Linked DNA regions of Homo sapiens. The protein of the gene in region 1 interacts with the protein of each later gene in a pairwise test. Each region holds a gene or a part of one and is shown in the gene's direction. Other genes may lie near its edges.

What was found.
Region 2: the proteins of SREK1IP1 (region 1) and NME1 interact in binary tests that used the Homo sapiens proteins (3 or more experiments, as listed by UniProt).
Region 3: the proteins of SREK1IP1 (region 1) and CT45A1 interact in binary tests that used the Homo sapiens proteins (3 or more experiments, as listed by UniProt).
Region 4: the proteins of SREK1IP1 (region 1) and SPMIP2 interact in binary tests that used the Homo sapiens proteins (3 or more experiments, as listed by UniProt).

Annotation. Positions count from the first base shown.
Region 1 is NC_000005.10:64,723,679-64,730,703, reverse strand, and holds part of SREK1IP1 (protein SREK1IP1), read left to right. Parts: intron 1-2,524; coding exon 2,525-2,597; intron 2,598-6,130; coding exon 6,131-6,320; 3' UTR 6,321-7,025. UniProt on the Homo sapiens protein: Possible splicing regulator involved in the control of cellular survival.
Region 2 is NC_000017.11:51,148,922-51,156,583, forward strand, and holds the start of NME1 (nucleoside diphosphate kinase A), read left to right. Parts: upstream 1-4,637; 5' UTR 4,638-4,741; intron 4,742-5,303; exon of another isoform or gene 5,304-5,452; coding exon of another isoform or gene 5,453-5,523; intron 5,524-6,729; coding exon of another isoform or gene 6,730-6,733; coding exon 6,734-6,859; intron 6,860-7,662. Other genes in the region: NME1-NME2 protein, read left to right, coding at 6,734-6,859. UniProt on the Homo sapiens protein: Major role in the synthesis of nucleoside triphosphates other than ATP. The ATP gamma phosphate is transferred to the NDP beta phosphate via a ping-pong mechanism, using a phosphorylated active-site intermediate.
Region 3 is NC_000023.11:135,708,949-135,716,657, forward strand, and holds the start of CT45A1 (cancer/testis antigen family 45 member A1), read left to right. Parts: upstream 1-4,690; 5' UTR 4,691-4,742; exon of another isoform or gene 4,743-4,759; intron 4,760-7,709.
Region 4 is NC_000004.12:159,025,215-159,032,239, reverse strand, and holds part of SPMIP2 (protein SPMIP2), read left to right. Parts: intron 1-5,515; exon of another isoform or gene 5,516-6,177; intron 6,178-7,025.

The DNA of each region.
Region 1 (7,025 bases):
CCCTTCCTCCTTCGGCTAATGACTCCCTCTTTCATTGACAAAATAGAAGACACCAAATGAGAGCATCTTAGCTTCCAATTACTGAATCCACAAATTTGCATATATATATATCCATCTTTCTTTTCTTTCCTTCAGTTAAAATGGAAGGACTGTCCTTCCTTTCGAAGGCATGTCCTACCATAATTGCTATGAATTCTTTTCTTCAAGAATTTTATTCCTTCAGTTATCCCCTCTCTGCGTCATCATTTCAATCAGCATCAATTTTTTTTCGTTTTTCCCATTGTTCTTCCCTAGATCCTTTGCATCCCTGTAGCTAACATTCCATTTCTCTGCTGCTTTCTAGCTAAACTTCTCATCAAAGTTATTTATTCTTACTTTCTCTACCTTTTTATTTCCATTTGTTTTTCAGTCCACTTGTCAAGGTCTTTAAATACTTTTTGCCAAATTTATTTGGCGTTTTTATATCCACATTCTACTTGGCCTTTAGGTACTATTTGATAGGTAGCCCCTCTCTTCAACATTCCTACTTCTTGGTTCTGGTATTCTTCCAACCCCGTGGCCCTTCTTTGTCAGTCTTTTTGACAGCTCTTCTTCTTGCTCTTCTCAGCCCGTAAATGTTGGAGTTCCTCAAGATGCAGATAATCTTCCTGGGCTTTACTCCCTGTATTTTTTTCTCATCATTCTCTTACTAAATGATTTTATTTATTCCCCATAGTTTTAAATACTATCTATAAGCTGATCAGTGTGTGTGTCCAGACTAATCTCTAAACTTCAGAATCACATACCAAACTACCTACTTCAGTTACCTACTTGGATGTCAAACAGGTCTTTTAGATCTCAAATGTCTAAAATTGAAATCTTTACTTCCCACCCACAATTGTCCTTCAGGCTCCTACCCACTTCCCACCAATCCACATTTTAATCAGTGGCACTGCTAAAAACCTGGTGGTCATCCTTGATTCCTTTCGTTCCATCATCCTTCGCACACACATATCACCTCAGGACACCATCTCTGGCCTGCACTACTCCAGTTACTTTATTATTCCCCTGCCTTTTCCCCTTAGCCCTTTCCAATTCATTTACCTTGTAAGTCTGCCGATCACACAGTCCGTCTCACTTAGAATGTAAAATCCTTACTGTTGCCTTCATGGTCTTGAATAAGCAAGTTCCTGCTTACCTCTCTGGCCTCTCATTTCATGGTATTCTACATGTATTTATGATATTGTTCATCTGTTCTCATTCATGTTCATTCTTATTCATAGTTGCCCCTCCCCTTCTATCCGCAACAACCTCTTCTTAGTTTCTAGAACGCACCAAACTCTTTTTGCCTTGGAGCTTTGGCACTAATTTCCTCTTCCTGACATGCACTACCCTTGCTGTTCACTTAGAATGCTATCTTTGCCTGTTAATTTTCTTTCTCACCACTTAACTATAAGTTCCCTGTGGGCAAGGATCATGCACAGCAAAGACCCAGTACATAGCACAGTACTTGACACATAAGCATTTAGTAAATATTTGTTGAATAAATGAAAGCGTGGTCAATAAAAATCTCCTAGGATTTTATGAGACAAACTGATGTCTATTCTTTACCTTGCCAAATAACCCCAAGGCTTCCTCCCGAGTAGCTGGGAGTACAGGCTCCTGCCGCCACGCCTGGCTAATTTTTTGTATTTTTAGTAGAAATGGGGTTTCACCATGTTGTCCAGCCTAGTCTCGAATTTCTGACCTCATGATCCACCCGCCTCGCCTCCCAAAGTGCTGGGATTACAGGCATGAGCCACCGCGCCCAGCCTGCTTTTTCTTTAAATATACACAAGTTCTGTCACCCAGAAATACTTCTTATATGTACAAAGATTTCCATTGCTTATTGTTTCTAACAATGAAAGTAGAAATTGATAAAATATGGTTAATGGGAACACTTCTGTGTTTAATAATGATATATATTTAATGACAAAGATAAATATCTGCTATGTTAAGTGAAAAAAAAGCTGCAAAATATATGTGACAGTACATTTTTCAAAGGCAAAAAATACTTGGAACTTATATGCAACTATGTGTGTATGAGTAAATGTGTGTGTATTTGGTTTTATATAAAGAATGCCTACAAGAATACACACCAAATAGTGTATTTAAAAAACAAGTTAGAGAATAATACATATTGCATGATCCTAATTTTGTTGCAAAATAAAATTTTAAAACTGTGCACTGTTGTAGTGTTCTGCTTTTTAAGGGCCAAACAATACCCATCAAACCACTGGCCTTGATTTCCTATGGGAATTAGAGGTGGGGTACTTGCATTTTTTTACTTGATGGACTTAGTATTTGAAATGTTTATAAAAAACATTTAATACTTTTATGAGTTTTTTAATGGATAAAGATAATTAAGAAAGGGGAAAATTATTACAAAAATTATCCTAACCAGTGAAATTCACCAACAGCTAAAATTTTAACATATATACATGCCATATTAATATATAGAATCATATATTAACCAGATTTTTTTCTTCTCACCTCTCCCCCACAGGAATAAATGAAGAAGAGGAAAAGAAGAAAGAAAAAAGCAAAGAAAAAATCAAATTGAAAAAAAAAAGGAAAAGGTATTTTTTGAACAACATTTTAAAAAACAAAGCAGGCCTATGAGTTTAGGATGGATTATAAAATTTTATTTTTTGTGTATAATAGTTAATTTAATATTTTTTCTTCAACAACTAAGCTTTTCATTGAGCTTAAGTTTAAACTCTTAATATATATTTTGTCTTCATATACATGAAATTGACTAAAATATTTGTATTCTTGTAATATTACCATGGCTAATAAATTAACTTATTAATAGAATTTAATAGAACTTGTCATGCTGTCCAGGTGCGATGGCTCATGCCTATAATCCCAGCACTTTGAGAGGTCAAGGCAGGAGAATGGCTTGAGCCCAGAAGTTTGAGACAGGCTTGGGCAACATAGGGAGACCTCATCTCTGCAAAAAGTAAAAGAAAAATTATCCAAGTGTGGTGGCATGTACCTGTGTTCCCAGCTATGTGGAAGGCTGAGGTGAGAGGATTGCTTGAGCCCAGGAGACATGATCACACCACTGTACTCCAGCCTGGGCAACACAGCAAGACCCTATCTGCCCCCCGCCCACCAAAAAAAAAAAAATATATATATATATATATATATATGTAATTATATGCACATACACACACCTTTGTATTTATATGTATTTAGCCTGACAGTTTCATATATATATATATATATGGTGGCTGATGAGGGTTGTGAAAGACCTGAAGGAATTTTTAGCATCACAACTTCCTTCCAGTCTTCGGCCACCTGTGCATTTTTACTATTAACTCTTTTAAAAACTAACTGGTTAAAGAAGTTATTGAAAGTAGTAAGTGGCCACTTCTCTTGTTAATGCGTGCAGTTTCATTCATACTAGCATAAATTTGCACATACAGGCATTTTTTAAAAGCACTTAACCATAATTATTTCTAGTTTAGACCCAGTTCTCATACAGAATAGGTTGTAGAAACCAGGGGCTGCCACTTTGTAGTTTTTATAGAGCATTTAATACATGTATTTTAATATTTCAGGTATCTTATAAATTGGAAAAGTAGCCCACTTTCAAGCGTTAGGAGTTAACTAATAATCTTTAATATAAAAACAAATAGGAATTTAGAGCTCAGGGTTTTCTGTTAATGTATTATTAAATCATTTATTCTAGCACAGGAAGATGGATTGCTCACAGGAAATGATATCTGATAGTCTTCCAAATTCTAATACAGATAGTTCCCAATTTATGTGGTTTGATATGATCTTTCAACTTTATGATGGTGCAGTAGAAATGTACTTCAAGTACCCATACAACCATTCTATTTTTCACTTTCAGGACAGTATTCAATAAATTACATGAGATATTCAATGCTTTATTATAAAATAGGCTTTGTGTTAGATGATTTTGCCCAACTAGAGGCTAATGTAAGTGTTCTGAGCATATTTAAGGGCAGCCACGTTAAGCTATGATGTTCAGTAGGTTAGCTGTATTTTGTGTATTTTCAGCTTCAGATAGATTTATCAAGGCGTAACTCCATCATAAGTTGAAGTACATCTGTATATTTCTTTTTTTTTTTTTTTTTTGAGACAGAGTCTCGCTCTGTTGCCCAGGCTGGAGTCCAGTGGCACAGTCTCAGCTCACTTCAAGCTCCGCCTCCCGGGTTCACTCCATTCTCCTGCCTCAGCCTCCCCAGTAGCTGGGACTACAGGTGCCCACCACCATGCCCGACTAATTTTTTTGTATTTTTAGTACAGACAGGGTTTCACCGTGTTAGCCAGGATGGTCTCAATCTCCTGACCTTGTGATCCGCCTGCCTCAGCCTCCCAAATATTTTTTATAGTAACAGATTATTTATTTGGGCCTCTTTACCTTGAGCATCACAAACCTGAAATTAAATTAACTTTTCTGTGCACACTTAGCAGAGATAGTGCCCCCTGAAAGTGTTGCTATGCCACAGCCTGAAATTTTGCCTTAAAAAGGAGACTTCAGGCCAGGCACGGTGGCTCACTCCTATAATCCCAGCACTTTGGGAGGCTAAGGTGGGTCGATCACCTGAGGTCTGGAGTTTGAGACCAGCCTGGCCAACACAGTGAAACCCCATCTCTACTAAAAATACAAAAAAAATTAGCTGGTGGATTACAGGTGGGTACCTGTAATCCCAGCTACTTGGGAGGCTGAGGCAGGAGAATTGCTTGAACTCGGGGGAGCGGAGGTTGCAGTGAGCCGAGATCACGCCATTGCACTCCAGCCTGGGCAACAAGAGTGAAACTCTGTCTCAGAAAAAAAAAAAAAAAAAAGAAACAAACAAAAAAAAAAACTTCAGGACCAAAAAGCTAAAGAAAAAAGTGCAGGCAGGGAAGAAGCTTTAGTCAGAATCCAGAGGTCAAGTCAAACAGGGTCTTTAAAAGAGGAAAATAGACAAGATTTGAGAATAACAACTGAAGAGGCAAGGGTGCAGGAGAATACATGAGAAAATAAGCTTTAACAGATGATTGGAAGTCTAAGTAAGTAGACAAACAAGGAGGAAAAAGGAACACAACATTACAAAAATAAGGGAAAACTCGGAGTCACTAAAGGAGGAAGGCAGTCAAGGAATTCACACACTATACAGACACAAAATAGCCTTGGAGCCCTGTAGTCTCCTGAATTTACATTGGCACCTCCTTTATATCCGTCTCAGATTTTCTTAGTTTGAGTTTTAACTCCTAATATTTAGATCACTAAACTAACTCTTTAGATACCTTTGTTTACATTTTAAATTAACTCAGTTTCTGTCTTGTCACTCATATTTTGAGTTTGAGTATAGGTAGAATGTTGCACATCTCTTTAAGTAAGATCTTAAAAGATAGGGTTTTCTGTTTTTTTCTTTTTCTTTTCCTTTTTTTTATGAATATTAGAGGAAGGAATTGAACCAATTTTTTCAATTTAGTATTAGAGTAATATTTTTCAAAAGCACAATGATAACCCATCCTTTTTCATTTATATATAGCATAAAAGCATCCTTTTGTAACTAATGAAAATTATTTTGTAATGCAAGTATTCATCTGTATCACTCTCCGTCTAGAGGGATCAAGTACTTGAAAAATCAGAAGAATTACCAAAAGTGCTTTTATTTTGCTAACTTTCAGCTTTCATTCATTCATATGAACGTACAATTATAGCCCTTTAAAATAGAGAATTGCAACTTTTGAGACACTTTTAAGAAAATATGCGAAGTTATTGTATACACAAGTGAATATAATAAGGCTTGGTGAATGCCCCTTTGTTTGCCTTTTAGGATTTTGAATGATATGACTGCATGAAAAACCAAAAATCACAGAAAAATAATTTCATCCTTATTGACTTTAAAACTCATTACATTAGTATTGAGTGGAATAGATACTAGTTTTGTTGGTTTCTGTGACCAAGCAGCAAAAATTCTAAATTCATCGTTTTAAGGGAATGCAAATATATGAAGCATTTTTTAAGTTTATGTTTATACTCCCTACCTTACTCCAAGAAGAATTTAAGGCAGTTCAAATCCCACTTAAATTTATCTATCAGTCATAAATGCAATTCTCAGTCAGTATGTATTATTATCCATAGGTCTTACTCATCCAGTTCCACTGAAGAGGACACTTCAAAACAAAAGAAACAAAAATATCAGAAGAAAGAAAAGAAAAAAGAAAAAAAGAGTAAATCAAAAAAAGGGAAACATCACAAAAAGGAAAAAAAGAAGAGAAAAAAGGAAAAGCATTCTTCTACACCTAATAGTTCTGAATTCTCCAGAAAGTAACTGAGACTTTGGCTTAAGCCGTTAAATTTAAAAATTTGTTTTTAAAACGTGTTTGCCCTTCCTTGGAATTTGCTATATATTATGCTTTGCAATAAATCACAGCCTTTTCCATATAGACATTTTTCGTATTTGGGACCATTATCCCTCTGGCAATATATTTTTAATGTGCTGTAACTGTAAAGTATTAAATCAGTCTTGTTACTTGATAGCCATGCCCCAAGTATAGCTATTTGTGTATACTAAACACATCATTTTTGGTATTTGTGTCTCTGTGTGTTTGGCTAGTGTTACTACTTCATAAGTTCATTGTAAAATGGCTTTACTGCCATCAACATGGGTCATCTACCTAGCAGTTAATGAGTATTGCTGGATCAGGTGTCCACCTTCCAATGATGAAGCAAGGTAAGGGGTAATGTTTTGCTCTTGACACAGAGAAATTTAATAGCTTTATGTACTAAAATATAATATCTTTTAAAGATAGTGAAATTCTTCAGTTTTTTAAATCTCTAGGGATTTTTTTTCAATGTTGTAGAAGATGCAGCTGCTTAATGGTCTTGACTAGGACTTTTTAAATGAATGGTGTCTGCAGGTAGATGATCATGAAAATATCTCTAACAAAGTTTTACTCTTCTATGAAATGCAGAATTTCTAGTACCTGCCTCCTTTGTTTTTGTAATAATTAAAATACTTCTTGTATAAAGAGAT
Region 2 (7,662 bases), on another chromosome or scaffold:
CTCATGCCTGTAATCCCAGCACTTTGGGAGGCTGAGGTGGGTGGATCACGAGGTCAGGACATCGAGACCATCCTGGCTAATATGGTGAAACCCCATCTCTACTAAAAACACAAAAATTAGCTGGGCGTGGTGGCGGGTGCCTGTAATGCCAGCTACTCGGGAGGCTGAGGCAGAGAACTGCTTGAACCTGGAAGGTAGAGGTTGCAGTGAGCCGAGATCCCGCCACTGCACTCCAGCCTGGCAACAAAGGGAGACTCCGTCTGAAAAAAAAAAAAAAAAAAAAAGTAAAGGAATAAAAGAATGTCTACTCTACAGGCAGAGGGGTTATTTCTTGATTATATGCTAAACAAGGGTGGATTGTTTGTGAGTTTTCTGGGAAAGGGATGGGCAATTTCCCCTCTCCCCCAGTTGAGTGCTCCTCCCCTTTGTAGACCATATAGGGTAACTTCTGGTTGTTTCCATGGCATCTGTAAACTGTCATGGTGCTGATGGGAGTGTCTTTTAGCATGTGAATCCATTATAGTTAGCATATAATGAGCAGTGAGGGTGACCAGAGGTCACTTTTGTTGCCATCTTGGTTTTGGTGGGATTTGACCGGCTTCTTTACCACTGTTTGATCACCAAGGTCTTTGTAATCTGTGTCTCATGTTGATCTTTTTTTTTTTTTTTGAGGCGGAGGTTTGTTCTGTTGCTCAGGCTGGAGTGCAGTGGTGCGATCTCAGCTCGCTGCAACCTCTACCTTCTGGGTTCAAACAATTCTGCCTCAGCCTCCCAAGTACCTGGGACTACAGGCGCGCGCCACCACGCCGGGCTAATTTTTGTATTTTTAGTAGAGACAGAGTTTCACCACGTTGGCCAGGCTGGTCTCGAACTCCTGATCTCAGGTAATCCACCCACCTCAGCCTCCCAAAGTGCTGGGATTACAGGCATGAGCCACCGTGCCCAGCCCTTGTGTCGATCTTCTATCTCATCCTGTGACTAAGAATGGCTAGCCTCCTGGGAATGCAGCCCAGTAGGTCTAAGCCTCTTTTTACCCAGCCCCTATTTAAGATGGAGTTGCTCTGGTTCGAAAGCCTCTGACAGTATCTTATTATACTGTGTAGGCTGGTCTTGAGCTCCTGGCTTCAAGAGATCCTCTTGCCTCAGCCTCCCAAAGTGGTGGGATTACAGGTGAGAGCCACCATACCTGGCCCTTTCCCTCATCTCTAATTCCTGGCAACCACTAAACTAGTCTATCCTCTATGTCTATACTTTTGTTATTAATATTTCACAAATGTTAAATGCAATAATACAATAGATAACTTTTTATGTTTGGCTTTTCTTCAGTCAGCATAATTCCCTTGAAATCTATCCAAGGGAATTATGTATATTGCATGTATTAATAGTTTGTTATTTTTTTCTATTGTTGAGTAGCATTCCACAGTATGGATGTAGCATAGTTTGTTTAACCATTCACATGATGAAAGACATTTGGGTTGTTTCCAGTTTTTGGTTATTACAAATAAAGCTGCAATGAACATTTGCGCACAGGTTTTTGTGTGAACAGAGCATAAGTTTTCATTCCTGTTGGATAAACGCCCAACAGTGCAATGGCTGGGTCATATGGTAAGCACATGTTTAGTTTTTTAAGAAACTATCGGCCGGGCGCGGTGGCTCACGCCTGTAATCCCAGCACTTTGGGAGGCCGAGACGGGCGGATCACGAGGTCAGGAGATCGAGACCATCCTGGCTAACACGGTGAAACCCCGTCTCTACTAAAAATACAAAAATTAGCCGGGCATGGTAGCGCGCCCCTGTAGTCCCAGCTACACGGGAGGCTGAGGCAGGAGAATGGCGTGAACCCGGGAGGCGGAGCTTGCAGTGAGTCGAGATCGCGCCACTGCACTCCAGCCTGGGCGACAGAGCGAAACTCCGTCTCAAAAAAAAAAAAAAAAAAAAAAAAAGAAACTATCAAACTTTTTCAGAGTGGCTGTACAATTTTATATTCCTACCAGTAATGTGGATCCAGTTTCTATACCTCCTTAATAGCGTTTGGTGTATCACTACTTTCATTTTAGCATTCTGATAGGCATGTAGTAATATCCGATTTTGGTTTTAGTTTGAATTTCCCTGGTGGCTAATGATGTTGAACATCTTTTCATGTGCTTTCTTGCCTCTGTATATCCTGTTCAATGAAATGTCTATTCATGTCTTTTGCCCATTTTCTAATTGGATTTTTTTAACCTGTTGAGCGTTCAGAGTTCTTCAAATATTCAAACCTTCAAATGAAGAGAAGGCCTTTATCTGATATGTGGTTTGGAAATATTTCCTTCCACTCTAGCTTGTTTTTTCGTCCTCTTCAAAAGGTCTTTCACAGGACAAAGGTTTTAAATTTCTTTTCTGCAGGGCACAGTGGCTCACGCCTATAATCCCAGCACTCTGTGAGGCCAAGGTGGGCGGATCACCTGAGGTCAGGAGTTTGAGACCAGCCTGGCCAACATGGTGAAACCCCGTCTCTACTAAAAATACAAAAATTAGCCGGGCGTGGTGGTGCACGCCTGTAGTCCCAGCTACTCGGGAGGCTGAGGCAGGAGAATCACTTGAACGTGGGAGGCAGAGGTTGCAGTGAGCTGAGATCCGCCAAGGCACTCCAGCCTGGGTGACAGAGCAAGACTGCATCTCAATAAATAAATAAACAAATAAATAAATAAAGGCCGAGCACGGTGGCTCATGCCTGTAATCCCTGCACTTTGGTAGGCCGAGGCAGATGGAACACTTGAGGTCAGGAGTTCGATACCAGCCTGGCCAGCATAGTGAAAACCCGTCTCTACTAAAAATACAAAAATTAGGGCCAGGCGCGGTGGCTCATGCCTGTAATCTCAGCACTTTGGGAGGCTGAGGCGGGCGGATCACGAGGTCAAGAGTTTGAGACCAACCTGGCCAACATGGTGAAACCCCGTCTCTCCTAAAAATACAAAAAGTAGCCGGGTGTGGTGGTGGGCACCTGTAATCCCAGCTGCTCGGGAGGCTGGGGCAGGAGATTCGCTTGAACCCGGGAGGCGGAGGTTGCAGTGAGCCGAGATCGCACCACTGCACTCCACCCTGGGCGACCTGGCAAGGCTCCGTCTCAAAAAAAAAAAAAAAAAAAGAAAAAGAAAATACCGGGCGTGGTGGCAGACGCCTGTAGTCCCAGCTACGCGGGAAGCTGAGTCACGAGAATCGCTTGAACCCGGATGGCGGAGTTTGCAATGAACCGACATCGTGCAACTGCGCTCCGGCCTGGGCGCCAAAGCGATACTCGGTCTCAAAAAGAAAAAAAAGAAAACAGGAGAATAATGAAATTTTACTTATTTATTTTATTTATTTTTTATTTTTTTGAGACCGAGTCTCGCTCTGTCACCCAGGCTGGAGTGCCCTGGCGCAATCTCGGCTCACTGCAACCTCTGCCTCCCGGGTTCAAGCGATTCTCCTGCCTCAGCCTCCCGAGTAGCTGGGACTACAGGCGCCTGCAACCACGCCCGGCTCATTTTTGTATGTTTAGTAGAGACGGGGTTTCACTATGTTGCCCGGGCTGGTCTCGAATTCCTGAGCTCAAGTGATCCTCCCGCCGCTGCTTTCCAGCGTGCTGGGATTACAGGCGTGAGCCACCGCGCTCGGCCAAAAGTTTTAAATTTCAGTAAGTTCCAATTTATCAACTTTTTCCCTGTATAGATTGGTCTTTTGGTGTCGTCTAAAAACTATTTGCCTGGCCCTAGGTCCTGAGGATTTTTTTTAACTTTTTTTTTCCCCATAAGTGATTTATTGTTTTACATTTAAATCTATGATTCATTTTGAGTAAATTTTGTATAAGGTGAGAGGTTTAGGTTGAGGTTCTTTGGGTCTATATTCGTCCAATTGCTCCAGCATCATTTGTTGAAACGGCTCCTGATTCCATTTTTGTACCTTTCCCCCGTTCATTTCCCCTTAGAGCAGTGGGAATGTTTTTTTGTTAGTGATGATGTCATGCCTTGTGCAAAATCTGTATTAGCATCTCACAACATAAGATTTGGCTCTATTCTAACGGCATTTTCCACCACTCGATGTCCACCGTAATACTTGGCTCTCGAAGAATCACTGGGCTGGCTCCCTCACTTCATGCAGGTCTATTCTATTATCACTTACTCAGAGATTTCTCTGGCCTTTTCTTCACAGCACTTACAAAATGCGATCTATTACATATTAATTTGCTTATTTGCTTCTTGTTTTCCTATACTCCCATCCCTCCCAGAAGCTCCAAGAGAGCATACTGTTTTATCCCTAGGGCCTAGAATAATGCGTCCACGTAGTAGGTACTCAAAATTTTTTGCTTGACAGGCTAGAAAAGGTGAATAAACACAAAGCGGGAGCGAAAAGTCTACTTCTAGGTCAGGCACTCTTTGGACTTCACGCAACGTGTGAGCGCCACCTCTCGGGAAGCCAATTTGCTCGCGAACGAAGGAAGTGAGTCAGAGAACCCGGGGGTGGAGAGAAGAAAGCAAGCAGCTAACCGGAAAGGTCTGAAAAAGCTAGCGCCGGAAGTTAAACTGCAGAAAGTTGTTCCCTAGAATGACTGCCTACTCCCAAGAGGAAGCGTGGGCGAGCGGTGTTCTGCAAAATGGGCTCTCCGGCAGCGGATCTGCGCAGAAGCGTTCCGTGCGTGCAAGTGCTGCGAACCACGTGGGTCCCGGGCGCGTTTCGGGTGCTGGCGGCTGCAGCCGGAGTTCAAACCTAAGCAGCTGGAAGGGTAAGAGGTGTTCGGGATCCTGAGAGGAAAAAGAAAGGAGTGTAGTCGCGGGAGTGGGTTAGGTGAGGAGTTAGTGAAGAGATGAGTTCAGCTCTAAGAGGCGGCGAGGAGGATCGGATGGGAGGAGGGGCAGGGAGCGCCTGTGGACAAGTGCAGACCGGTCGGCGCACGTCCCACGCCACGTGGACTCGCCTTTGTCGGTGGCCGCCTTTCTCGTCAGGCCGCGACGACAGGGCTGTGCCTTATTTGTGTCTGTCGAGAGCAGTGCCGGGCACGGAGTTGGCGCTCTGTAAGTGCTTGCTGAATAAATGACGGGTGTGTGTGTCATTCATTCAGCAAGCACTGAGTGCTTACTGTTGTGTCACCGGGACCGATGTGGAGGGACATTTTTAGGGTGTATTTCTGGCGCTTTAGTCCTGTTTTCTCCTGGACAATTTATGCTTGCCCCGCACCCCATCGTGCGATTCTCCGCAGTCTTTGGGCTTTGTCTCTCTCTCTTTTTTTTTTTTTGGAAGTTGCAGAATGGTGATAAATGATTTTCTTTGCTCCTATTGACTGCTAGGCCCTGTGGCTAGGTACCATAGAGTCTCTACACAGGACTAAGTCAGCCTGGTGTGCAGGGGAGGCAGACACACAAACAGAAAATTGGACTACAGTGCTAAGATGCTGTAAGAAGAGGTTAACTAAAGGACAGGAAGATGGGGCCAAGAGATGGTGCTACTGTCTACTTTAGGGATCGTCTTTCAAGGCGAGGGGCCTCCTATCTCAAGCTGTGATACAGGGTAGGTCATGAGCGCAGTCTTCTGTAAAATGAGGGATCTGGACGGAATAGTTACTCTCTAGGCTTCCTTTCAGTATGATGTCCCGTATCAGATATTCCTAATGTCTGTAGTTCTCCCACACCCCACCGTTTATTGGCTAGTCAAAATATTCTTTGCATTGTAAAGTGTAGCATAACATTACAAGAATGGATTAATGGGTTGGGAATGCTGGGTTTTGGCCTTCATTCTGGTGCTGTGGTCCTGTTTCCTCATTTGTAAAATGAAGGGGGTTGTAAAGATATATTCTCTAAAACCCCTAATGCTATGGCTGTGGCATTAAGTCAAACTATTATTTCTTACTGCTTTGTACCGGACATCACTTTCACATTAGTAAAACTTTTCATCAGTGTAGTTTCTCCCAAGCTTGATTATTGAGAAAGATAGTGCCTTGTTTTTAACATCCTGTATCCTAGTTCCACCGCAGTGTTTGGTACACAGTAGATGTTTAAAAGAAGCTTATTAAATCAAATGGTGGCCAGGCTCATGGGGCTCACGCCTTTAATCCCAGCACTTTGGGAGGCTGAGGTGGGCAGATTACTTGAGGTCAGGAGTTGGAGACCAGCCTGGCCAACATGGTGAAACCCCATCTCTAGTAAAAAAAAATACAGAAATTAGCTGGGTGTGGTGGCACGCACCTGTAGTCCCAGCTATTTAGGAGGTTGAGGTAGGAGAATTGCTTGCCTGGGAAGTGGAGGTTGCAGTGAGCCAAGGTCGCACCACTGCACTCCATCCTGGGCGAAAGAGCAAGACTCCATACCAAAAAAAAAAAAAAAAATCAAATGGGGCTGGGTGTGGTGGCTCATGGCCATAATCCCAGCACTTTGGTAGGCTGAGGTGGGCAGATCACTTGAGGACAAGAGTTCGAGACCAGCGTGGGCAACATAGCGAAACCCCATCTCTAAAAAAACCCCACAAAAACCAAAACAAATGAAAATAAAATAAATCAAATGGGATAGAAATTATAGTCCTTGCTTTTGGATCCTTTCCCACATTGACATATTAGTTCATAGATCAGGGGACTGGGGAGGAATTGGGTTTTTACCAGAGGGAGACCTGGAGCTGACCTGACAGATTTAAACCAGCTTTATGGGATAATCCGCTTGAGACGGATGACGCTGTAGGCAAGTGATTCACTGCTGTTTCATTCCTCTACCTGCCTATCCCCAGAACCATGGCCAACTGTGAGCGTACCTTCATTGCGATCAAACCAGATGGGGTCCAGCGGGGTCTTGTGGGAGAGATTATCAAGCGTTTTGAGCAGAAAGGATTCCGCCTTGTTGGTCTGAAATTCATGCAAGTAAGTGGACTTCATTGTTCCCATTTTGATTCCTTCATAGTATAGGAGAACACTGTGATTAACCTGTTTCTCCCCGTCTTTCTTATTTAAAGTTCTCCACGGTAGAGTGAACACAAGTGTCTTGAGACCTGGAAACTCCTCAGTGCCCTAGCGTTTGGCTACATCTTGGAACAAACCAAGTTATTTAGGATTTTCCAAAATAGTCTCTGTAATAGGAGGTGCATTGCTACGGGAAAAGCAGTGCAGAGTTCCACATATGACTGCATCTCTGTAATTTCTGACTGAGAGCTGAGCATGTTTGAGTTCTTGGTCTTGAGCTTCCTGAGCAGATAATTTTAGAGAGATTTTTTTCCCCCTTTGAGACAGGTTGTTTTTTAGCAAGAAAGTCTTTCCATCATCAATTACTAGACACTAATAAATGCTTATTGTTTAGCATATATTAGGTATCATAGGAGCTGGTGGAGGAAAACTATGGTTTTGGTTTTGGGGAGGTTCTTCAGAAACAGCAGAGAGCAGATGTACCTGCAAGCTACTTACAAAGCAATCTTTTGATAAATGCAAAGGATTGATTGACCAATAACCCTTCTTCAAACAAATTCTAGAGATAATCCAAATTCTCGGCTGGGTGAGGCATAGTGGCTCATACCTGTAATCCCAGCACTTTGGGAAGCCAAGGCAGGCTGGTCACTTGAGGTCAGGAGTTCAAGACCAGCCTGGCCAACATTGTGAAACCCCGTCTCTACTAAAAATACAAAAATTAGCTGGGCATCAGGGTGGGTGCCTGTAATCCCAGCTATTCGGCA
Region 3 (7,709 bases), on another chromosome or scaffold:
CGTTTAGGATATAAACCTTGAGAGTTGATATAAGGTTGAAAGAGGAGATGATAGTACATTGCTGTCCTTTCTAGCTGGACCCAAACTCTTCTTTATGACAACTACTGAAAGTAAACAAAACATTCACCTAATTAATATTATATATCAGGTTGCCAGGGATGTCACGGTTGCTGACGCAACAAAACCACCTGCAGTACAGCAGCTGCAGTTGGAACAACAATTTGATTAAGTTTATGGTCCGATCTCGGCTCACTGCAACCTCCACCTCCCAGGTTCAAGCAGTTCTCTTGCCTCAGCCTCCTGTGTAGCTGGGACTATAGGCATGCACTGTTACACCTGGCTAATTGTTTGCATTTCTTAGCAGAGACAGGGTTTCACCATGTTGGCCAGGCTAGTCTCAAACTCCTGACCTCGAGTGATCTGCCCACCTCAGACTCCCAAAGTGCTGGGATTACAAGCGTGAGCCACCGCGCCAGGCCCCGGCTATTTTTTGTATTTTTGGTAGAGATGTGGTTTTGCCATGTTGGCCAGCCTTGCCTGGAACTCCTGACCTCAAGCGATCCACCCACTTCTGCCTCCCAAATCCTGGGATTACAGGCGTGAGCCACTGTGTCTGGCGAAAACTTCACTTTTAAGTGAAACACAGAAACAAAATCAGATAATCAGAAAATGAGATACTGCATGTTCTCATTCATATGTGGGAGCTAAACAATGGGTACACATGAACATAAAGGTAGAAACCATTGACTCTGAGGACTCCAAAAGGGAAGTGGAGGGGAGGGAGGGAGCGGGTTGGAGGGTTGAAAAACTACCTATTGGATGCTCTCTTCACTATTTGGGTGATGGGTTCACTAGAAGCCCAAACCCCAGCATTATGCAATTATACCCAAGTGAGAAAACTGTACGTGTACCCTTCTGGTATTTATAATTTTAAAAAGGTTAAAAAAGAAAGCTTCAGTTTTAAATCTTAACCAGATATACATGAAAAGGATTACTACACTTTGACACCTTTACAAGTTTCTATGTTAGTTTTTAGTATTAAAGGTGAAACCTATTCCTTGACCACTTTATTAATTGTATATCCTCTTTGAACAAACATCCAAAATACAAGACTGTCACTTTTCGTTCTGTAACTGTGATTCTTCACTGCAGTCTTCTATAGATTTTACAGAGTTAATGGTCCCTAATATCTGCCATTCTCCAACTGTCCTGGGTGGCGAAATGGCTGCCATAGTAAACTTGTCACTGATAAATAGAGTTTCTGGAAACATGCAGGGCTTGTTATTTAAGAGTGACTCCATTTGGGCATTCTGGTGGATGGCCTACAGGTTTTCTTGCAGAGTATACTAGAGTCTCCAGAATGAATAACCCTAGGAACTTGAGGAACTAGCGCTTTCCAGAATTTTGGAAGCCAAGATACAAATATTGGTTTTCTCAAAAGCAATGCAAGTGGGAAGGAAAATCCATATCTAGACTAAATGTCTGTTGAGGTAAGAAGAAAGCACTTCTCTTTTTACAATAGAAGTGATCTATTGTAATCCACATACCAACTAGTGGCTGGCAGATCATTTTGGAGTCTGGTGCTAAATTGGGGGCTTAGTGTTGGTCTCCATTCCTGGAAGATTGTTCACTCAGCAATGACTGTAGCCAGGTTTGCCATGGTGAGTGGAAGTCCATGCTACTGCGCATAATCTCCATCCTTGACAGTTTGACCACTTTGTTGAGCCCATAAGATTGTGACACAAGTGTTGGGGAAAGAGGCTAATTAATATGTAGATAATAAGTACCTTATCCATCTGATTATTAAATTCTGCTCTGCTGAGGATACCCTTTGCTGAGAACTCTCATGAGACCCCAATATCTTCACATTGTATGTCCACTTGGAAAGGTCTGTCCACATATTTGTTTTTTTTTCTCAGACGTCCTTGACAGAAATTTTTAATCATGTGTCCTCAATGTCCCTGACAATTCAGCGAATGAGTGGGACACAGCCTATGCATGGTACATACTTACACGTCTGGATATGCCTCCTCCAAGAAGGTGCACTGCTCAAAGTTCTTCCCTCTGGGAGGATTTCCCTTCATCACTGTCCTTCAGGGCTGTCCCAGTCAGGACTGTCACATGCAGCTGTCCACTTGTGGCTTGTGTGGTAGGCAGGATTCTAATTAAGCCCCAACAAGATTCCAGTCTCATGGTTATTCAATCAAATACTCATATGAGTACTGCTGTGGTGGGATTTTTTTAATGCAAAAATGAGTATTTCATTTTGATAACACTAGAAGAAACAAACAAAACAACTGTGTTCCTACATCGAAGTGAAAACAATGTTTAAGCTTTCCTATCAATCAAATATATTCCAAAAGAAAATGTGTTCTGTAAAGGTTCTGAAACACAGGCAAATATTAATACAATAGGCTAGGAAGCTATAATACTGAAAATGACTCTCTTCTGACAGGGTACTTAACAAACATAATTTTTAATTTTAATTTTAATTTATTTATTTTAAGACGGAGTCTCCCTTTGTCGCCCAGGCTGGAGTGCAGTGGCTCGATCTCTGCTCACTGAAGCTTGTGCCTCCCAGGTTCAAGTGATTCTCCTGCCTCTGCCTCCCGAGTAGCTGGGATTGCAGGTGCCCACCACCATGCCTGGCTATATTTTTAATTTTTTTTTTACAAACATAACTTTTGAATTACAAAACCAGTGAAGTAATCCCTTCCAAATAATTGTGTCAAGAGTGAAACTGCTTGTTCCATTAAAACTCCAAAACTTTCGCTGTAATATTTTTTGCCACTATGAACAATTCAAGTAAATTTTGCTGCACTTAAAATAAGTTATGAAAGTGGAAAAATGGGCGGGGCGTGGTGGCTCACACCTGTAATCCCAGCACTTTTGGAGGCCAAGGAAGATGAATCACTTGAAGTCAGGAGTTTGAGACCAGCCTGGCCGATGTGGTGAAACACTGTCTCTACTAAAAATACAAAAATTAGCCGGGCATGGTGGTGCATGCCTGTAATCCCAACTTCTGGGGAGGCTGAGGCAGGAGAATCACTTGAACCTGGGAGGCGGAGGTTGCAGTGAGCCGAGATTATGGCACTGCACTCCAGCCTAGGTGACAGAGCCAGACTCTGTCTCAAAAAAAATAAAAAAGGTGGAAAAATATACAAAGTTCCAGATTAAAATGATTAATAGATGCAATATAATAAGGTTTCCCCTCCTTTCTTTTTTTCTTTCTTTTTTTTTTTTTTTTTTTTTTTTTAGACAGTCTCACTTTGTCACCCAGGCTATGCGATCAAAGCTCAATGCAGCCTCAAACTCCTAGTCTCAAGCCTCCTGGTCTCAAGCCTCCCAAGTAGCTGGGACCACAAGTACACTTTCAGCTAATTTTTGTATCTTGTGTACAGACGGGGTTTCACCATGCTGCCCAGGCCACTCTTGAACTCTTGGGCTCAAGGAATCTACCCACCTTGGCCTCCCAAAGTGCTGGGGTACAGGCATGAGCCACCACACTGTGGCCCTCATTTTTCTTATCAATTAACAACTGTTACCTTTAACAGATAGAGGTTGAATTTATATTTATTTATTTATTTATTTATATTTTTAGACAGAGTCTCGCTCTGTTACCCAGGCTGGAGTGCAGTGGTGTGATCTCAGCTCACTGCAACCTCACTTCCCCAGTTCAAGTGATTCTCCTGCCTCAGCCTCCCAAGTAGCTGTTGGGACTACAGGTGCGCGCCCCACGCCCGGTTAATTTTCTGTATTTTTAGTTGAGACGAGATTCACCATGTTGGCCAGGCTGGTCCCGAACTCCTGACCTCAGGTGGTCCAGCTGCTTTGGCCTCCCAAAGTGCTGAGATTACAGGCGCGAGCCACAGCGCCCGTTGGGGTTGACTTTAAAACACAACCCCATCCAATGAAGATTTCAGTTTGTTGATGTTGTCGTTTCTTTCTTTCTTTCTTCTTTCTTTCTTTCTTTTCTTTTCTTTTCTTTTTTTCTTTCTTTCTTTCTTTCTTTCTTTCTTTCTTTCTTTTCTTTCTCCTTCCTTCCTTCCTCTCTCTCTCTCTCTCTTTCTTTCTTTCTTTCTTTCTTTCTTCTTTCCTTTTTTTTTTTTGAGATAGAGTCTCCTCTATGGCCAGGCTGGAGTACGGTGGTGCGTTCTCGGCTCTCTGCTACCTCTGCCTCCTGGGTTCCAGCGATCCTCCCACCTCAACTTCCCGAGTAGTTGGGACCACAGGCGCCCGCCACCATGCCCAGCTAATTTTTGTGTGTGTTTTTTTTTTTTTTGGTTGGTTGGTTGCTCTGTAGAGCCGGGGTCTCACTATGTTACCCAGGCGATTTCATCCCACTGTGTGAGAAGGTTCTGCGTTCCTCTGCTTATGTTGCTGTGCAGTTGTTACTGAAGGTCGCCTGTAGAGGGCGCCAGTCAGCGAAGGGGAGGGCTGCGCTTCCTGGTTCTCTGGGGCACGAGGCTTCACCTCAGGATTCTGGCGCCCCCAACAGGTTCCCAGTGTTCGGCTGGGCCAGCACACTGTGGCTGGCTGCTTCCCTTCCTTCCATCCCCTTTGGACCAAACGGGATCGGTGCTTCTGGTGAGACGCCTCCCCATGCACATCACTCCCAGGTGCCCTAGGGGGCACATTTCCCACAACTCCCAGAGGGCAGGTTTCTAGAAAGTGCCACCAGTGGGGAGGCGCCACAACTTCACTGCCATTTTGTGAGGTGCTGCTGTCTCTCCTCCAGCAAGGTCAGGACTTAAGGACTGTGAGTGGGGCAGTTTTTCCCTGGATGCTTTAATTTCACCCCAGAAAGTGTCCTTTTTCCTCAGAAAGAGTCTTTTCTGTGGTGTTCTCTGTCTGGTGTGTGGTAGGGCTCCCTTGGGGAAGTGGCTCAGCTCTGGGGACACCGCCATGGGCGCCTGTGTCAGCCGCGGGGGAGCGTTTTCCTTGGGCACCTCGTCTCAGCCATGTTGTGAGGCCGGGGGGCTTTTCTTGGGGGCTCTGTCTCGGTGATGCTAGGGACTTTTCCTACTGAAATGACCTGAGCCCGGGGGTGGGGGCCATGCCTTGGTTGCTTGTGTCGGCCTCGGGTGCGGTGCTGTTTCTTTCCCACTCAGTCGCAGTCCTGAGCGGGGGCTCTGCCTTGGGGACTCTATCTGTTCTCATGGAACATGGTGGGGGTGGCTGTGTCCCAGACGCATGATCGCCGCCCTGTGGGATCGCTGACGGGGGCTTTATCTCAACCTGCGAGGGACTCTTCCTTGGGTGCTGATGTCGTCCGTGAGGCACATTTGCCCTTGGATGTCGCTCACTCTCAGCTAGGATGTGTTGGCTTTTCTTTGGTTCTGCTTATCCGCGATGTGGACGCTTACCGGATGCTTTGTCTTGGTGGTGGGTGCTCTCTCCCGGTGCTGCGGGGGAATGGGGTGCTGTTCCTTGGATTCTCTAAGCCTATGGTGGGACTCAGGGAGCTCTGTGTCAGCCATGAGGGAGGCCACGTGACCTTGGGAACTCTGTCTCTACCCAGGTTGGGGTGCTTTTCCTCGGTGGGTTGATCTCAATTCTGAAGGAACTCTTCACCGGGACTCTATCTGACCTTTCGGCCACAGCCTCAGGTGTCTGTGTGGGAATGGAAGTCCAGAAATATTCGAAGGTTCCAGCTGTGCCACATTCGAACACTCGCTGTACAGTTAGTCTTTCATTCCAGCCACTCCGATGGGTGTGCAGTGATCTCTCCTTATGTCTACACTCGCATTTCTCTGCCGATTAATGAGATTGAGCACCTTTTTAAAAAAATTGTTTTTATTTATTGATTTTTGTTTGTCTTTTGAGATGAGGTCTCCCTCTGTCACCCAGACTGGATTGCAGTGCCACCACACCCAGCTATTTATTGTTTTTTTTTTTTTTTGAGCACCATTTTATGTGTTTATTGGTCATTTAACTATGTCTTTCATGAAGTTCCTTTTCAGGTATTTTCCTCCAGCTTTTACTGAGATGTTTGTATTTTAAAAATGGATTTGTAGTTTCCATATATTCTGTATTTGAGTTATATACACATGCACGCAGGCATATATGTACATATATAAAAATACGTATACAATTTTAGTATCTTCTATAAATCTTTTTTGCTTTTACACGATCTCAATAATGTATTTTAGATGAACAGATTCTCTTAATTTTATTAGTCAGTGTATTATTTATGGGTAGTGCTTTTTATTATTTAAGAAACATCTTTGAATCACCCAATGCCATTACTATTATATATATATAATACTTATATATATATAATACTTATATATATAATACTTATATATATATAATACTTATATATATATAATACTTATATATATAATACTTATATATACAATACTTATATATAATACTTATATATTATATATATATAATACTTACATATAATACTTATATATATAATACTTATATATAATACTTATATATATAATACTTATATATAATACTTATATATATAATACTTATATATAATACTTATATATATAATACTTATATATAATACTTATATATAATACTTATATGTATATAATACTTATATATATAATACTTATAGGTATATAATACTTATATATAATACTTATATGTATATAATACTTATATATATAATACTTATAGGTATATAATACTTATATATAATACTTATATGTATATAATACTTATATATATAATACTTATATGTATATAATACTTATATATATAATACTTATATGTATATAATACTTATATATATAATACTTATATATATAAAATACTTTAAGTTCTGGGATACATGTGCAGAACGTGCAGGTTTGTTACATAGGTAGACACATGCCATGGTGGTTTGCTGCACCCATCAACCCATCATCTACATTAGGTATTTCTCTAATGCTATCCCTCCCCAGCCCCCCTCCCCCAACAGATCCCACTGTGTGATGTTCTCCTCCCTGTGTCCATGTGTTCTCATTGTTCAACTCCCACTTATGAGTGAGAACATGTGGTGTTTGGTTTTCTGTTCCTGTGTTATCTTGCTGACACATGTCCCTTCAAACGACATGAACTCATTCTTTTTTAGGGCTGCAAAGTATTCCATGGTGTATATGTGCCACATTTTCTTTATCCAGTCTATCATTGATGGGCATTTGGGTTGATTCCAAGTCTTTGCTGTTATGAATAGTGCCGTGATAAACATACGTGTGCATGTGTCTTTATAGAAGAATGATTTATAATCCTTTAGGTATATACCCAGTGATGGGATTGCTGAGTCAGATGGTATTTCTGGTTCTAGATCCTTGAGGAATCGCCACACTGTCTTCCACAATGGTTGAACTAATTTGCACTCATGATGATAATATTCTAAGTTTTCTTCTAGATCTCCCAATCATCAGAAATAAATTCTCATGGAATGGAGTAAAGTCAGAGTCCAGATATATTTGATGTGATTATTAGCCATTAGAGTATGACTCTTATGAAGTGCATATTCAGCTTTTCCCCCCAAATTTTAGTGGGATGTTTGTTTTTTAGAAATTCATTTGTAGTTCTGGATATATTCTGGATTCCATTCATTTGTTGCCAGATAAATATGTATATATGTGTGTAAGTAATATATATTTTATATATAACCTATACTATATACTACATAATGTATAATCTACAAACATGATTTGGTTTTTCACCTCTTAATAGTGTCTTTGAGGAACAGAACTTTT
Region 4 (7,025 bases), on another chromosome or scaffold:
GCCCAACAATTTTTTTTTTTGAGACAGTCTCCCTCTGTTGCTCAGGCTGGAGTGCAGTGGTATGATCTCAGCTCACTGCAGTCTCTCCCTCCAGGGTTCAAGTGATTCTCGTGCCTCAGCCTCCTAAGTAGCTGGAATTACAGACGTGAGCCACCATGCCCACTAATTTTTTGTATTTTTAGTAGAGATGGGGTTTCACCATGTTGGCCAGGCTGGTCTCAAACTCCTGACCTCCGGTGATCTGCCCGCCTCAGCCTCCCAAAGTGCTGGGATTACAGGCATGAGCCACCACAACCGGCCCCCATCAATATTTTTTAAAATCATTTTTATTACTTCAAAGAAGTAGATATGAATCCTTTTTTGCTTTTGCCTTTTACAAATTTTATTGTGACTATTTTAAAACACACGCCAATGAACTCCCACTTACCTGTCACCCATATTCAACATTTATCAAAATTTTGCCACATTTGACTCACATCTCTCGTATTTTTCTTGTAAAAATATTTTAAGCCCAGATATCATATTATTTCACTTACATATTTTATTGTGCATCTGAAAAAATATGAACATATTCTTACATAGTCACATTGCCGTGACTGCACCTAACAAAATTAATAACTATCATTTGGCATCATGTAATTAACAACTCCATAACAAAATTTTCCTGATTGTCTCTAAAATGTATTTTTACAGTTGATTTTGAGAATAAGGATCCAACACACATTGCATTCAGTTGTGTTTTCTCTTTTTGTCTATTTTAAACTGGTGCAGTCTTCCCTTCTTTTTTCCCTGCCATTTACTTGTTGCAGAAACTGGATCAGTTATGCAGCAGAAATGTCCAACGTTCCGAATTTGTCAATTACTTCCTTCTCATATCATTTAACTTGTTCCTTTATTCTCTGTAAACTGAATTTGGCTCTAGAGGCTTGATTATAGCCAAGTTCAACTCTTTAGGGATGCTTATGTCTTAGATGGTACTGCAGTCAGTTCACAGAAATCAAACTTTTGAGCTGTTCAAGAATAATAATTTTAACTCCTATAAGGCCCATCACTTACCACCTTTCTAACCTATTGGAGCTTGGAGCTCTTTCCTCCATGTTTGGAACTGTTTTTAATATAAAGTCCGTGTTTTCATAAAAACATTAGTTTAAGTGAAGTACCCAGGCTAGGCAAACAAAAGATTGATTTAATCCATGCAAATATTGTGTAATTGTGATAAAAACAAGAAAAATATCTTGTCACTATTAATAATTAATATGACAACAAAATATCATGAGAAATCATTTAGAAATTATTTTGGATGTCAATAATGTAAAAAAAACCATGTAGAGGATGAGAAAATACTGAGGAATTTCGCAGCAATTCTGAGAGTTACTTTAGAGCACTTTTAAGAGTTTCATAGGATTTTTATTGATTTCTAATTTAATTTTAAAGTGAAATTTTGGCTGGACGTGGTGGCTCACACCCTGTGATCCCAGCACCTGGGAGGCCGAGGCAGGTGGATCACTTAAGGTCAGGGGTTTGAGACCAGCCTGACCAACATGGTGAAGCCCCATCTCTACTAAAAATACAAAAATTAGCTGGGAGTGGTGGCATACCCGTGTAATCCCAGCTACTCAAGAGGCTGAGGCATGAGAATTGCTTGAACTCAGAAGGCAGAGGTTGCAGTGAGCCAAGATTGCACCATGGCACTCCAGCCTGGGCAACAGAGTGATACTCTGTCTCAAATAAATAAATAAATAAATAAATAAATAAATAAATAAATAAATAAATAAAATTTTGCTTTCTCTTGGCATAGGCATAACACTACTCTTTTTTTTTTCTTTTGAGGGAGGGTCTCACTCTGTCACCCAGGCTAGAGTGCAGTGGCACGATTATGGCTTACTGCAGCCTTGACCTCCCTGGGCTCAGGTGATCCTCCCACCTCAGCCTCCCAAGTGGCTGGGACTATAGGTGTGTACCATCACTCCTGGTTAATTTTTGTATTTTTGTAGAGATGAGGTTTCACCATATTGCCCAGGCTGGTCTTGAACTCCTGGGCTCAAGAGATCTGCCCACTTCGGCCTCCCAAAGTGCTGGGATTGCAGGCATGAGCCACCGCACCCAGCCAACACTATTCTTTTATTTGTCATTTATAACTACAGTTATTTTAATTTTCATTTTAAAAAATTTCCACTGATGCTTCATTATTCTATGTGATGATTCACAGTATATATCTAGCTGGTATACTCGACCACTTAACTAATGTGATCACTCATCAAGTCTTATTTTTCTATCAAATTTTGATATATTTCCTTTTAAAATACATTTTTGATGCTAATTTTTTATCCTACATATTTGAAATCCAATTTAACAAATTGAGTGCCAATTAAGTACTAAAAACTTGTCCATTAGCATTGGAGGATACAAAAATATACATGAAAAAAATGTTCTCTTTTCTAGAAGCTTATAATCTATTGGATAACCAGAACATAATAGGGTTGATTTGCTCAGTCTGAATATCCATCACAGCATAGTGTGGCATCCAAAGGAAACACAAATCCAATTCCAAAAACCCTGAGAAATAACAGGAAATTACCTCACATAACACTACACAAAACTCAGCCATATGTTTTGTTTTGTTTTCCCACTCATTTCTCTTCTTTTTGAGTATCATAGTTAGAGCATAAGTTACTTCCTACATTGCAGATGGATCTTGGAATTTATTTAGCTTTCAATTAATAAAGGAATTGAAATTCTTTTTGAAAAAACTATCGGTGGATCCAACTTTTAAAACCTTTTTAAAAAGTTGATATATAACATACTCTATTAAGTACATTAATTTGTCTTTAGCTTGATAACATTTTACAAAGTGAGCACCTTTATGTATGCACTTTTAGATTAAGATACTGAATATTTTTATCACTCTAAAAAGTTCCTGTATGTCCTTTCCCAGTCAATCCTCCCACAATCAGATGCTGTTCTGATTTCTATAATTCATGTTTTCGATAACTGTGAGTTTTAATCTAATAGGGCAAGCTAACCATCTGTACTTTTAAAACATTTATCTGCTGGCTATTCTTCCACAGAAGTTTTACTACCAATTTGCTAAGTTCTGTAATGACATAGTGAGGAGATTTTATAAATAATGTTTGTTTGTTTTTTTGAGACAGAGTCTTGCTCTGTTGCCCAGGCTGGAGTGCAGTGGCACGATCTCAGCTCACTGCAGTCTCTGCCTCCTGGATTCAAGCGATTCTCCTGCCTTAGCCTCTCGAGTAGCTGAGATTTCAGGTGTGCGCCACCACGCCCAGCTTATTTTTGTATTTTTAGTAGAGATGGGGTTTTGCCATGTTGGCCAGGCTGGTCTCGAACTCCTGAGCTCAAGTGATCCACCAGCCTTCACCTCCCAAAGTGCTGGGTTACAGGTGTGAGCCACCGCACCTGCCTAGAAAATGTTATTTTTGTATTACAAAGATTTTACTATAAAAACCTTATAAACAAAATTAGGAAGAAAATTTAAAACTACTTTAGAGCATGGTTATATATTTTTAAAACATCTGTTTACATACAAATGACATTAATTTGTTTACCCAGTTCCAGGTCCTATGCAATTTTAAAGTTTAAAACTTGGGCTGAATGCGGTGGCACACACCTATAATCCTAGCATTTTGGAAGGAAGAGGTGGGAGGATTGCTTGAGCCCAGGAGTTTGAGACCAGCCTGGGCAACACAGAGAGAGTTCATCTCTACAAAAAATTCTAAAAATCAGCCGAGTGTGGTGGTGCACACCTGTGATCCTAGCTACTTAGAAGGCTAAGCCAGAGGATAGCTTGGGCCTGGGAGGTCGAGGCTGCAGTGAGCTGTGATCACACTACTGCACTCCAGCCTGGCCAACAGAGCAAGGCCCTATCTCGAAGGAAAAAAAAATACTTAAAAATTACATTTCTTTAAAAATACATTCTTTAATTCAGATTTTTCTTCATTAATTCCTACTTGGCTCAAATTAAATATAGTTAAGAAATAGTTAATATAAGACATAAAATTAAAAAGGCACTATAACAGATAATCTAATTTAACCTATTTTTTCAGATGGGAATACTCAGGGTTCAGGTAAGTTAAGTGACTTGCTGAAGGCCACACAGCCTTGTAAGAAGGATGGAAGCTTCTGCCTGCTCCCTGTTTATATGGGGTATTTATGTGCCTTACATCCAGATTACTGACTAAATAAAAGTATTAATATATTTAGTCAGCCATCATATACCTACTAGAAAGTCTGCTCATGTAAACCAGAAATATTACAGAACTCTACCTTACAAAGGAGTGATCACAGCATGAAATTTCTGTTAGAAATACATTAGAATTGGAAATACTCTCTAGGAAATGGCCAAAAAACGATATGATGAATGAAACTGTAAGTGGTCGGAGAAGCACATAAATGTATATGTAATTTTGAAATGTATTGCTCCATTAGCCAGCATTTCAGACCCACTTATTCATCTTATTTTTTGCTCTGTGAAACTGTCATACTAATAGTTATGTCTCAGATTCAATTATTTTAAAAATAGAAAATGACTTCACACTGAATTGCCAGTGGTTTCCTGTTTGAAGAAATAATAAAATAGTCCTACTGCAAATGCAGTTTAAGTCCCAGCACTATAATCCACAAGACAACTCTTTTAGATTTTTAAAAACTAATTCATGACAAAAGCTTACACATTTTAATGGTACTGAAACATTGGGTTGACTAAACTGCATTTTATTTGTCTATTTTTATTTTTACCTGCCTTTTATTCTGTTGTCATAGCATGCAGTTTGCCCTGAATCAAAATTTGTTCTATTACTTTAAGATATATTGTAGACAATATACATATGTCCTTACCATGATTCTTCAGTCTACTCAAAAATAATAAATTAAAAGCTAAGATAGTTGGAAATGATCTTCTGATAGAATATAATGGGCCATTTATTGAAAACAAAATTGCCAAACATCTAGTTAGCTTAATTATATCCAGTTGCAGTGATTTATTTGATAAGGACATTAGATATTAGGCGTTGCTATCATAATAGCAAAAGTGGGAGACCTTATTCATTGTCCTCCATCAAACACTGTTCTTTTCATAAGACATATTATTACATTTACAAAACTATAAGTGTTACATGAAAGCCTTATCTATAGGTGACAGCAACTCCAAATCAATCCTACCTTAAATTGTTGGTCACCTAACTCAACACAGTGTAATTTGCAGAAAAAAAAAAATCAGTTGCTGCTATCCCTTTGAAAAGCACCTGAACCAACCCCTTAGAAGAGGACTTCTAAGGAAAAGCTTTGTCTTAACTTCAAGTTTTTTGGTTTTGTTTTATATATGCATAAATATAAATATATAAATATAAATATATGTATATAAATAATTACTGCATAAGCTAAGATGGAAGGGAGGAGGATTTATTTGCCTTTCCATGGCTTTATTTAATTTTCCAAAGTTGATCCTTTGTAGGTTATGTTAATATCACTTCTTAATTTTTTTATTTTTTATTTTTTAGCACAAACACATTTATTTATTAACCAAAGGGATGATCCTAATTAATCTGATACTGAAACAGCTGCATGTAAAATGTTTGTGATAAAGATAATTGAACACAGTAATGAAAAAAAAGAAGCAGTATGGAGATTTGCCCATTGAACTGAGCTTGTTGATTTTCATAGCTATTTCCTGTCCAAAGTGATGATGAAATTTTTATTCTACTTTTTTATAGATCTGAGAACAGGTGACATTGTTCATGACACAGTCTACCATGAATTTCCCATCTTTCAATTTTCTTGTTATTGTGCTTTTCTTCCCATCCCACTCCTGATGCTGAACCAATGATCCATCTGTAAAGTTGTAGAGAGTCTGAGTTTTTTTGCTATGAGCTGTAGTTTCTTCAAACTTCTCTCCCAGGGTACGAGAAAACTGTGCTGTTTTCTAAGTGCTCTGAGTTTTTATGGTGAGGTTTTTGTCATCACAAATGATGATACACTCTGGCTTGGCCATTGTGCCCATTTTTCACAAAGCTATTCCCACTCCTAGTTCCTTCACGTATTCATCAAGGCCTTTGCTGTCCACTAGGCATCATCTTCCATCTGCTGAACAGTGGTCATGGTGGGCATAGGAGGGTGTGTGGAGCAAGCTTAGCAAGGTCGGCATGGGCAGCGCACTGTGAATATCACTTCTTTAAATCAGGATGAAATGCTCTTGATTAAGCAAAAAGAAGTTTCTGTTGTTGAAACAGGATGTGAAAAAATTATTAAATGCAAGATGAGTTGATTGTTTACTGTGTGCCAGGCCCTGTGCTACCTACTAGGAAATAGGTGTAAGCATGAAGATCCTGCTTCAAGAAGCAAAAACTGTAAACTTAGACACCAATGTCGGCTTTCCCCTTAACTCTTTTGAACTCAGTTTTTAAAAAATCTGTAATTTGGGGGATATAAGGTTTTTATAAGGTTTTCTATCATGGTTTAATGAAATGAAAGCACCTGTAAATAATATGAATTTAATAATTTTTTTAAACTGTTTTTTTCTCTTGAGAAGTTGATTATCTGGGGGAGATTGGTGCTGGGGAAAGGACACAAAACCATCTTAAAATTCTTTTTTTTTCTTAATAAGCCAACCAAGTACACCTTATTTCCCAAAGTCTGAAGCCATAAGCAGGTTTTTAAAATACAGGAAGAAATAATCTAAGATTATTTAAGCAAATGGTTTTAAAACTTTAATGTGGAAATTATTCTCCTGGAGAGGCTTGTTAAAATGCAGATTTTGGGGTGGGTGTGCTGGCTCACTCCTGTAATCCCAGCAGTTTGGGAGGCCGAGGTGGGGGGATCACTTGAGCTCAGTAGCTCGAGACCAGCCTGGCTAACATGGTGAAACCTCGTCTCTGCTAAAAATATAAAAATTAGCCAGGTGTGGTGGTTCACGTCTGTAATCCCAGCTACTTGGAAGGCTGAAGCAGGAGAATTGCTTGAACCCAGGGGATAGAGGTTGCAGTGAGCCAAGATCATGCCACTGCACT